Linked DNA regions of Homo sapiens. The protein of the gene in region 1 purifies or fractionates together with the protein of each later gene. This does not show direct contact. Each region holds a gene or a part of one and is shown in the gene's direction. Other genes may lie near its edges.

Region 1 (2,757 bases):
CCCATCCCTGGCTCCTTCCCTAAAAGTAGAGTAAAATGGAAGCGAGCATCCTGGGATTGGGGGCAAGAGGGGGACCGCAGGGTAGCTGTGGGTTCCAACTGCTGTCAGAGTCAGAGAGGCAGCCCCAAGCCAGCCTCCCTGCTTTGCCAGGGAATTTGGGGGAGGAAGGTGACAGCTGCCCAGAGGCTGACTCATCTGATATTTAGCACTGGGTAGGATGATTGTTTCTGAGCATTTTTCTTAAAGGCCTCAGATCTAAATTATGCCACCGGCTCCCACTCTTGCTACCTCCCGTCAACTTCTCTGCCTTGCCTTCCACCCCTGTAGTTACCATACACAGAGGAGGAGGAGCTGTCCTTGTCCCAGGTTGGGAGGCTGACAACCCCTTAGCAAGATGCTGCCAGCCCAGAGCTCTCCAAGGGGAGGAACACCCCTGAGACTCAGGCCCCTCTCCTTCAGCCCTGCTTGGGCTGCAAGCGCCGTGCCAAGGAAAGGCATCTTGGTGAGAAGAGCTGCTGTGGGGGAAGGGAGATCAAATGCCAGAGAAATGTGGGGTGCCCCACCCTCAGGATAGTAAAAGAGTATGGAGGTATTTCTGGAAGGAAATGAGCGGCACTGTGTGAAGCCTCGCACCTGTGTGACACTTCCTATGGGGTCTTTGTCACACTCTAGTACTATGTCCCTGAAGAGTTTAGCAGCCACACTCTTAGAAGGGTGCTGGGAGATGGTGTTGCCCTCTGCAGCCATGTTTAGGGGAGCGGAACCTGAGGCCCACAGTGGGTGAGATTAGCTCAAGAAGCCACAGAGGCCACCAGAGGGCCACGGACTTCGGAAAGGAGAAGAGAAGAACAGGGCATCAGGCCTCACAACGCAAACCTACCCAGAGATGGGCACAGTGGCTCATGCCTGTAATCCCACCACTTTGGGAAGAGGCGGATCGCTTGAGGTCAGGAGTTCGAGACTAGCCTCGAAACCCTATCTCTACTAAAAATACAAAAATTAGCCAGGCATGGTGGCCTGCGCCTGTAATCCCAGCTACTCAGGAGGCTGAGGCAGGAGAATCACTTGAACCCGGGAGGCGGAGGTTGCAGTGAGCCAAGATTGCACCACTGCACTCCAGCCTGGGAGATAGAGTGAGACTCCATCTCAAAAAAATAAAAAATAAAATAAACCTACCCGGAATGACCATGCTGAGGACTGGGAGCCCGCAGACTTTCAGCCACAGGCCGCGACAGCCGTGGGTCCCTCCCTGGTCAAGTCAGCAGGCCTTGTGGAGGCTGTGGGGTATCTGTGGTGACTCAGGTAATTATAGAGGGCTGGCCCCCAGCCCTGGTTCCTGTACACATGCCCCAACCCCATCCCCATCCACTCCCTCGCCAGTCCTAACCTCTTTCCTGGGTCCCCCCCCTTCAGCACCTAAGTCCATACCTAGGGCCGTGGAATTCCCGCTCAAGAGCAACAGAAGCCCCTCTCTGCACCCCCATTTCTGGACTGGATTGTCCACTGAGACGCGCAATGTCTGCATCTCTGACATCTAGAGGCTTCCTCGGGAAGGGCATGGGGATCTCCGTGAGATGTGGGGACTTTCACTGGCCAACCAAGAAATCTACACAGCGTCCGGGGACCTGTGACACACATCCCTCCCGCCTCCTCAACCTGATGTCCCTCTCTGAATCTGCAGCTTTCGTGCTGTGAAGGTGTCTTTACATGTGAAACAAACAAACCCAAGTCAAGAGTAAATCATCTCATTTACTAGTGAGAAAATGTTGGAGCTGGAGTCCTTCAGAGAGTCCTGGCCAGGCAAGAGGGCCATCAGCTCTCTTCTGCTCAACAGGGGCTCTCAGCCTCAGGACACTCTCAGGCCTGGAATGTCCCCAACACACTCAAGGAGAAACATGTCCTGTGCAGACCCACAGGAGGCATCTTTGCCCGGCACAAGGAAGAGCTGGGGTCAGTGGGACCTGTAGATGTAGACACATCATATGGAGGGTGGGTAGGACCAATGTGGCAGCTTCATGGAGGCCAAGTGTGGCTCTGCACCAGGAAGGGGCTGTGATGGCTGGAGGTGCCCAGCAGTGCAGGCGGGGAGTGCCTGGCAGTGGCGTGGCCAGGTGGAGGCCACCTGTCAAGTTTGCAATAAAGCAGTTTCCTGAATTTGGTGAGAACATGGACTAGAGGACTCTAGCCTCTTCCCCCTTTAGGGTTTCACTTCAGTAAGTCTTAAAATTAGAGTGTGGTGACTCACGCCTGTAATCCCAGCACTTTGGGAGGCCAAGGCAGGTGGATCACTTGAGGTCAGGAGTTTGAGACCATCCTGGCCAACATGCAGAAACCCTGTCTCTACTAAAAAAAAAAAATAAGTAAATAAATAAAAATTAGCCAGGTGTGGTGGTGCACGGCTGTAATCCCAGCTACTTGGGAGGCTGAGGCAGGAGAATCACTTGAACCCAGGAGGCGGAGGTTGTGGGCCGAGATCATGCCACTGCACTCCAGCCTGGGTGGCAGAGTGAGATTCAGTCTCAAAAAAAAAAAAAAAGGATTAGAGCTTGGTGCAGTGGCAGCCACCTGTAATCCCAACTTCTTGAGAAGCTGAGATGGGAGGCCCCCCTTGAGCCCAGAAGTTTGAGGCCAGCCTAAGCAACACTGTGAGACCTTGTCTCAAAAAAATAATAAAAACAATAATTCTTAAAATAAGCTGACTGGGCTGAAATCATGTATTTGTACAACAAACATTAAGCATCTAAATGCACCTGGCTC
Region 2 (3,658 bases), on another chromosome or scaffold:
ACATTGAGCTATTTGGCATTATGAGCATTATAGAAACTAATCTAACAAAATATGATTTATGAGGCTAAGAAATTACTTCTCATTACCTAGGTGGAAAGGGGGGATTGGGGTAACATTTAGTGTGTCCTATGATCCCTGTAAGCAGTTGGTAGAATTTGATTTACATTTCTGATACACTTTTATTTATTTTTGCATGTAAAAGATCTTTGTCCAGATATATTCAAAAGTTTGATGGTTTTATGCCTATGTGGTATGTGTGAGAAATCTGAGGTTTGTGTGATACAAAGTAACTGGCCTTTTTTTTTTTTTTTTTTCTTTTGTTGATAGAGTGGTTTCCTCCTTTGTAATTCCCCTGCCCAGGGCCAGCCCATAGCTTTATTTTCAGATTTCTTCCTTTGAGACTGTTTCCAACATGAACTTGTTTTTAAAATTTCTTATGTAATAGATGATGTGTTGAATCATTCACAATTTTTAAAAAATTAGTTTGCAGATACTCCTCAGACATCAGTGTGTTAAGTTGTGGTTATCTTAAAAATATCAAAGACTAATACTGGAATATGTATTCTACACATATATCATTTATTTCTTTGATCTTTCTATTTGTTGTAGGTGTGTTGATTTCTGGTTTTCTATTCTGTGATTAGGCTCTGCTTGATTTTTGTGTAAATACATATGTGATTTTTTTTTTCTTGTGTTTGCTGAAGATTTTTTCTTTTTCTTCCAAGTCAATCACCTTCTGCTGCTTGGATGGGTGGATTTGGTGCTCAGCCTCCCCAAGGACAAGCTCCTCCCCCTGTAATACCTCCTCCTAACCAAGCCGGATATGGTATGGCAAGTTACCAAACACAGTGAGCCGGGACTCTAAAAAAAAATTGTAATTCATGATAGGCTTCGATTTCCTGTGACACTCTGAAGACATGAAAGTAGACATCGGAAAATGAAAATATTTATTTTAAAAATTGAAATGTTTGGAACCTTTAGCACAGATTTGCTTTGGTGAAGGACACGTGTCTTCTAGTTCTGCCTTTTTAAGTTTTTGTTCATGATGGATATGAACATGATTTTTCTTTATGTACAAAAACTAAAATAAAGTCAATAAAGACAATTCTGACTACAAATTTTGATATAATAGGAAAAATGGCTAATACATTTTGATTCTTAGATACTATTCCATTTTTATCTTGCTGTTCAGTATTTTAACTCACTGTGTTTTTAAAAGAGCAAAAAAGGGAGGATCGTGAAAACCTGGGAATCACATATAAGTTCATCCTGAATCCTGATACTCCCCTCCCCTTCCCTGAGGTGGACCACATTTGAAGTCAGCAGAGAAAAAGTGTGATATTCAGAAGAAATGCGTGATTTTGGAGTCGCTTTGGAGGAAATATTTTCTTTCTCTATGCCTAAAGAAACTGAAGCCAGACTGAAGTTTTGCACCCTAAAAAAGGAACAGCATTGTTTGAGTTACTTGAGCAAATGTTGGTGGTCCACGTTAAGACATATTTTTAAAACTTCCAAAAGTGTCGATTATTAAAATTGTAGTATTTTACATTTCATTTTGGGGGGAAATCCAAGTATGGTGTTTGTATTGAAGTCAGACAGTCATACTTGTGCTTTTACATGAAGTTTAAATGATACATATTGTAAATATTCAATAACTACAGTGTTTAAAAAGCATGCTTCAACATAGAAGTAGCAGCAATGTAATTATTTGAAGTAACACTTAACACACTCCGCTGCATTGAATGCAGTGGATTGATCAGAATGTTAAGACTGACATTTCCAAGGTTGGCTACTATGTAAAATTAAAATTACACAAATTGTGCAGAAAAAGCCTTAATTTTAATTTCATACAATCTTTGATGCATTAGTATGTTCTAAAATGTCATTGGGAATTAGTTTTTTGTTTTTGTTTTTTTTTTTTTTTTTTTTTGCTTTACATTACTTGGTATGTAAATACCTTGATTAAAACCTTGTAAACCAATTTCAAGGTTACTATAAGTTGTATAGTACAAGTGTTTTTTAAAAATCTTGGGGTGTTTTTAAAAATTAAGATATATTTTGCCCAAGAATTTTTTTAACAAGATTGCTAAAAACATCTTATTTAGACACTTCAATGTACCAATTTATAATTGGATATTCAGTTTAAATAGTACACAGAGTTGTGGCTTTTATTTTCAATTAATTTTTTTCCTTGTGGGCAGTGTGCATGGTATAATAAGCCTGAGCAGAGGCTTAAGTTGTATGTGTGCAGAGTTTGTAAAGGAATCAATTGGAAGATGCAGAAGACCGAGGTTTGCTTTCAAGGTATTTTTCAGGCTGTGTGGGTAAAATTTGCCTCAAATTTCTATCAAACAGGAATGTAAAATAGATAAAATCCTATGTATTTGAATTGTCAGAGCTAGGGAGTGCAAATGTTTTGGCAATGTATTCAAAATGCTGGCCTGGGCACCAAAGAGAAAATAGCCTTTTACAGTTACATAGTAAGATGCGATTAGTACCCACAAATTACTGTTTTCTAAACATTTGAAGTTTTACGATTAGCTTTAAAATAATGATTTTATAAATTGGTGGTCACAATAATTTTGGTATTACTTTCCTCCTTTTCCCACTTAGCAATATAGCCAAATGTATTCAACATAAAAATTCATAGGGTCTGAAATTCATAGCTGGGCCAAATTTTTTATGGCACCTTAGTTTTACCATAATGGTCATCTATTACACTCTTCTGTTATAAAATATACCCTTATTTCTTTTGTTTATAGTATCTTTGAGGAATGTTTTTGGAAAAGTTAATTTATATTTTATAGGGAGAACACTCAATAAATTATGTTAACTGTGCCCCCGAGTTAAAAATTTTATGAGTATATGTGAAACTTGAACAACTGAAGACTTTTTTTAATTGATAAAAATGCTTAGTATGCCTGTTTTGGTCTGCCAGTAAATTAAGTAGCTTATTGAGATAACTAACAGCTAAATATAGCTGTAGTGTTTCCTGACTGTATATTCTATGATTTAATAAAATTATCCAGACTAGTTATATTGCCACAGTAAACATGTGACTGAAGTGTCCTTCATCTTAATCTGAAAGAGGGCAAAATTTCATGATCAGTTAATGGAAGTTATTTCATATTAAGTGGTTTTTTTTTTTTTTTTTTTTTAGATGGAGTCTTGCTCTGTCGCCAGGCTGGAGTACATGTAGTGATGAGAACTTGGCTCACCGCAACCTCTGCTTCCCAGATTCAAGCGATTCTCCTGCCTCAGCCTCCTGAGTAGCTGGGATTACAGTCACGTGCCACCATGCCCAGCTAATTTTTTTGTGTTTTTAGTAGAGATGGGGGTTTCACCATGTTGGCCAGGATGGTCTCGATCTCCTCACCTCGTGATCCGCCCGCCTCAGTCTCCCAAAGTGCTGGGACTACAAGCGTGAGCCACGGTGTCTGGCTTTTTTTTTTTTTTTTTTTTGAGACGGAGTCTTGCCCTGTCGCCAGGCTGGAGTGCAGTGGTGCAATCTCGGCTCACCGCAACCTCCGCCTCCTGGGTTCAAGCTATTCTCCTGCCTCAGCCTCCCGAGTAGCTGGACTACAGATGCATGCCACCATGTCTAGTAAATTTTTGTATTTTTAGTAGAGACAGGGTTTCACCATGTTGGCCAGGATGG
Region 3 (2,723 bases), on another chromosome or scaffold:
TCCTAATACTGCCTATCATCAGCTATCATGGTTACAAAAGAACCATTTCTTTGCAGGAATAAAGCCGGTTGGTTGGACAGTGAGCTCAACATGTTCACACACCAGTACCTGCAGCCCAGCAGATAGTGGGCACCTGAGGCGGAGTCTGCGTGGAGAGGGGCGGTGCTGCCAGCCCTAAGTGCCATGTGGGCTCCCCCAGGGGCACGTGTGGCTCCTGCCCCCTGGCCACTGCCAAGAGAATGAAGCACCCAGTCTCGTACCATTTTGAGCCCTCCAGCACTACTTATTTTCCCCCACCTTTGCCTGCTGTTGCTGGAAGAGCTGGCTCATACCCCCAAAGGACACTTTCAGCGACAGCTATGGACAGCATGGTACCAAGGAGTTAAGTTGAGGCTTTTTCCAGCTTTCTCTGGTTCATTTGATTGCTTGATAAGGCCTCAGGATCTCAGCATTGCACAATGCCTCATGGAAGCCTTTGAGGGTATCACACAGACACCCCCACCTTCCTCCAGCCTGTGCGCACCTGCCCTCCTTGCAGCCCAGCACACCTGCAGGTGTAAGGGACGATTGGAGTTTCTTCCCAGAGAGTCTGTCCCAGAAGGACTGTGGCTTGTGTGTGTCCATCTCGCCTGTTGGCTCAGTGCTTCATCCCATTTGCAGAGCCTCAGACACGTCTTGGTGGTGAGGCTCAGTTACCCCTGGGCTTAGGCTGAGGCGGGCCCTGTGCTGGGGGTGGTAGAAAGGATGCTGCTGAGGCAGCTGGAGGAGTGGGAGTAGCTCAGAGGGGAGGGCTGTTGGATGTATGGGGAGCTGGCAGAGCAGGTGGCAGTCACTGGGACAAGGAGGGACTTGCCTCTCTTCTCATTATTGTGTCCTTTGCTTTAGTGTCAGTCCTGGACTTGTGCAGGCCTGTTTTGTGTAGATCTGTTTTGGAAGATGGCATGGTCTAGGTGGTTGAAGGATGTAGTAGAAGGATGGATGGTGGAAGGTGGGGACGTTGGTGGCTGGCTGAGGTGCATGGGCCCCACACAGGACAGCTGGAGAATGGGCCGTCCACTTGGCCTCGTTCTGCGAGGGGCTCATGGGTCTGAGAGCCCCCACCCACTAGGCTTGATTGCATCCCTGTTGTGCCCTTTAAGAGACATGTTTCCACCCCACCCCCAACCTTGTCCCAAGTGCCCTGGACTAAATTTCCTGTGCCAGTGACTGCAGTTGGCCAAGGGACAATGTGGAAAACCCAGTGTCCATCTTTCCACCCTCCCTGATCTCCAGAACCTTCGACTGACCCCCTTGTCTTTATGCTGATGTTGAGTTTTGGGATTGTTACTGGTTGAAGTGGGGGCAGATGCCTGTCACCAAGGTGTTGACTGTGTGAGAAAAGCAGTTTGGGTGACAAATCCTGTGTGGCACAAGTTGGATCGCTTCCTAGAAATAAGCAACACCTCTCCCAAAAAGCAGCCCACAAGGCAGGGGCCCAGCAGCCCAGCCATCACTCATCTTTGAGGAAATGAGTTGGTAGCCTCTGTGCACTGTTTGGTGGCCACATCACAGGTGATGTCCTGTTCACATACCTGCTTGTATTTAAAGCCCTCAGTCTGTCCTGTTGTGTGGGGCGAAGTGATGGACTCTGCCAGGTGGACATGCTGTGGGTGGATGTTCCCGGCGTGTGCCGGGCCTGAATGGACAGGGGCCACTTCACAGCATGTCAGGGAAAATCACTGTCACACAATTCCAATGGATTTTGTGCTCTTTTTGAAAAAAAAAAATTCTTTAGCGTAAACATGAATTTTTTTTCAATGTAGCCCCTGGGGAATGAATGAAATTTTGAGCTTCTTCAATACGTAAAATTAAATTTATACCACTGAGGGAGAGACCCTTTCTGAAAGAAGTATGGCCAAAAGCACTTTAATGCTGCTGACATTGTTGTTTTTATGTTCATTTGCTGGAGCGCAAGACGTGCTGACACAGTGAGTTTTCTCTGATGTATTTAAGGTGATGTATTTGCTTGAGTTACTCCTGTATCATTGCTCATAATATTGGAAACTAAAATAAAACCTAGTTGGAAATCCTTTGTGAGATCTGTCTTTTTGGGTTCTTGTACAAACTCCTCTTTGACATGGCCAGCTGTATTCTGAAGTGACCATAACTTTGGGGAAGTTCCCACTATAATCTGGCTCCTTATTCTTGGAAGGAATTTGATACTCTCAAAAGAACAGATGGTTTAACTGATCTTTAAGGATCAGGAAATCGAGACTGATTTCTTTACAGATTTCTCTGTAACTCCAGACCATTTTTCACTTAAAAAGTAAATGACTCACTGTTCCATCCTGCTTTGCCTTCTGAGAATTTGGTTGCCACTATTCTTTTTTTTTTTTTTCTTTTTTGAGATGGAGTCACGCTCTGTCGCCCAGGCTGGAGTGCAGTGGCACGATCTCGGCTCGCTGCAAGCTCCGCCTCCCGGGTTCAAGCAGTTCTCTGCCTCAGCCTCCCAAGCAGCTGGGATTACAGGCGCCGACCACCAGGCCTGGCTAATTTTGGTATTTTAGTAGAGACAGGGTTTCATCATCTTGGCCATACTGGTCTCAAACTCCTGACCTTGTGACCCACCTGCCTCGGTCTCCCAAAGTGCTGGCATTACAGGTGTGAGCCACCGCTTTTTTTTCTTTTTTTTTTTAAGGGTCCTCAGGAGTAGATACAGGGGTAGTCAGTCAGTTTCCCCGCCC

What was found.
Region 2: the proteins of THY1 (region 1) and TIAL1 fractionate together in Homo sapiens (co-fractionation; one large-scale study listed by BioGRID). This does not show direct contact.
Region 3: the proteins of THY1 (region 1) and MFN2 purify together in Homo sapiens (affinity purification with mass spectrometry; one large-scale study listed by BioGRID and IntAct). This does not show direct contact.

What each region holds. Positions count from the first base shown.
Region 1 is NC_000011.10:119,414,884-119,417,640, reverse strand, and holds the end of THY1 (thy-1 membrane glycoprotein isoform 1 preproprotein), read left to right. Parts: 3' UTR 1-2,165; downstream 2,166-2,757. UniProt on the Homo sapiens protein: May play a role in cell-cell or cell-ligand interactions during synaptogenesis and other events in the brain.
Region 2 is NC_000010.11:119,572,859-119,576,516, reverse strand, and holds the end of TIAL1 (nucleolysin TIAR), read left to right. Parts: intron 1-704; coding exon of another isoform or gene 705-725; coding exon 726-852; 3' UTR 853-3,052; downstream 3,053-3,658. UniProt on the Homo sapiens protein: RNA-binding protein involved in alternative pre-RNA splicing and in cytoplasmic stress granules formation. Shows a preference for uridine-rich RNAs.
Region 3 is NC_000001.11:12,011,440-12,014,162, forward strand, and holds the end of MFN2 (mitofusin-2), read left to right. Parts: intron 1-56; coding exon 57-126; 3' UTR 127-2,069; downstream 2,070-2,723. UniProt on the Homo sapiens protein: Mitochondrial outer membrane GTPase that mediates mitochondrial clustering and fusion. Mitochondria are highly dynamic organelles, and their morphology is determined by the equilibrium between mitochondrial fusion and fission events.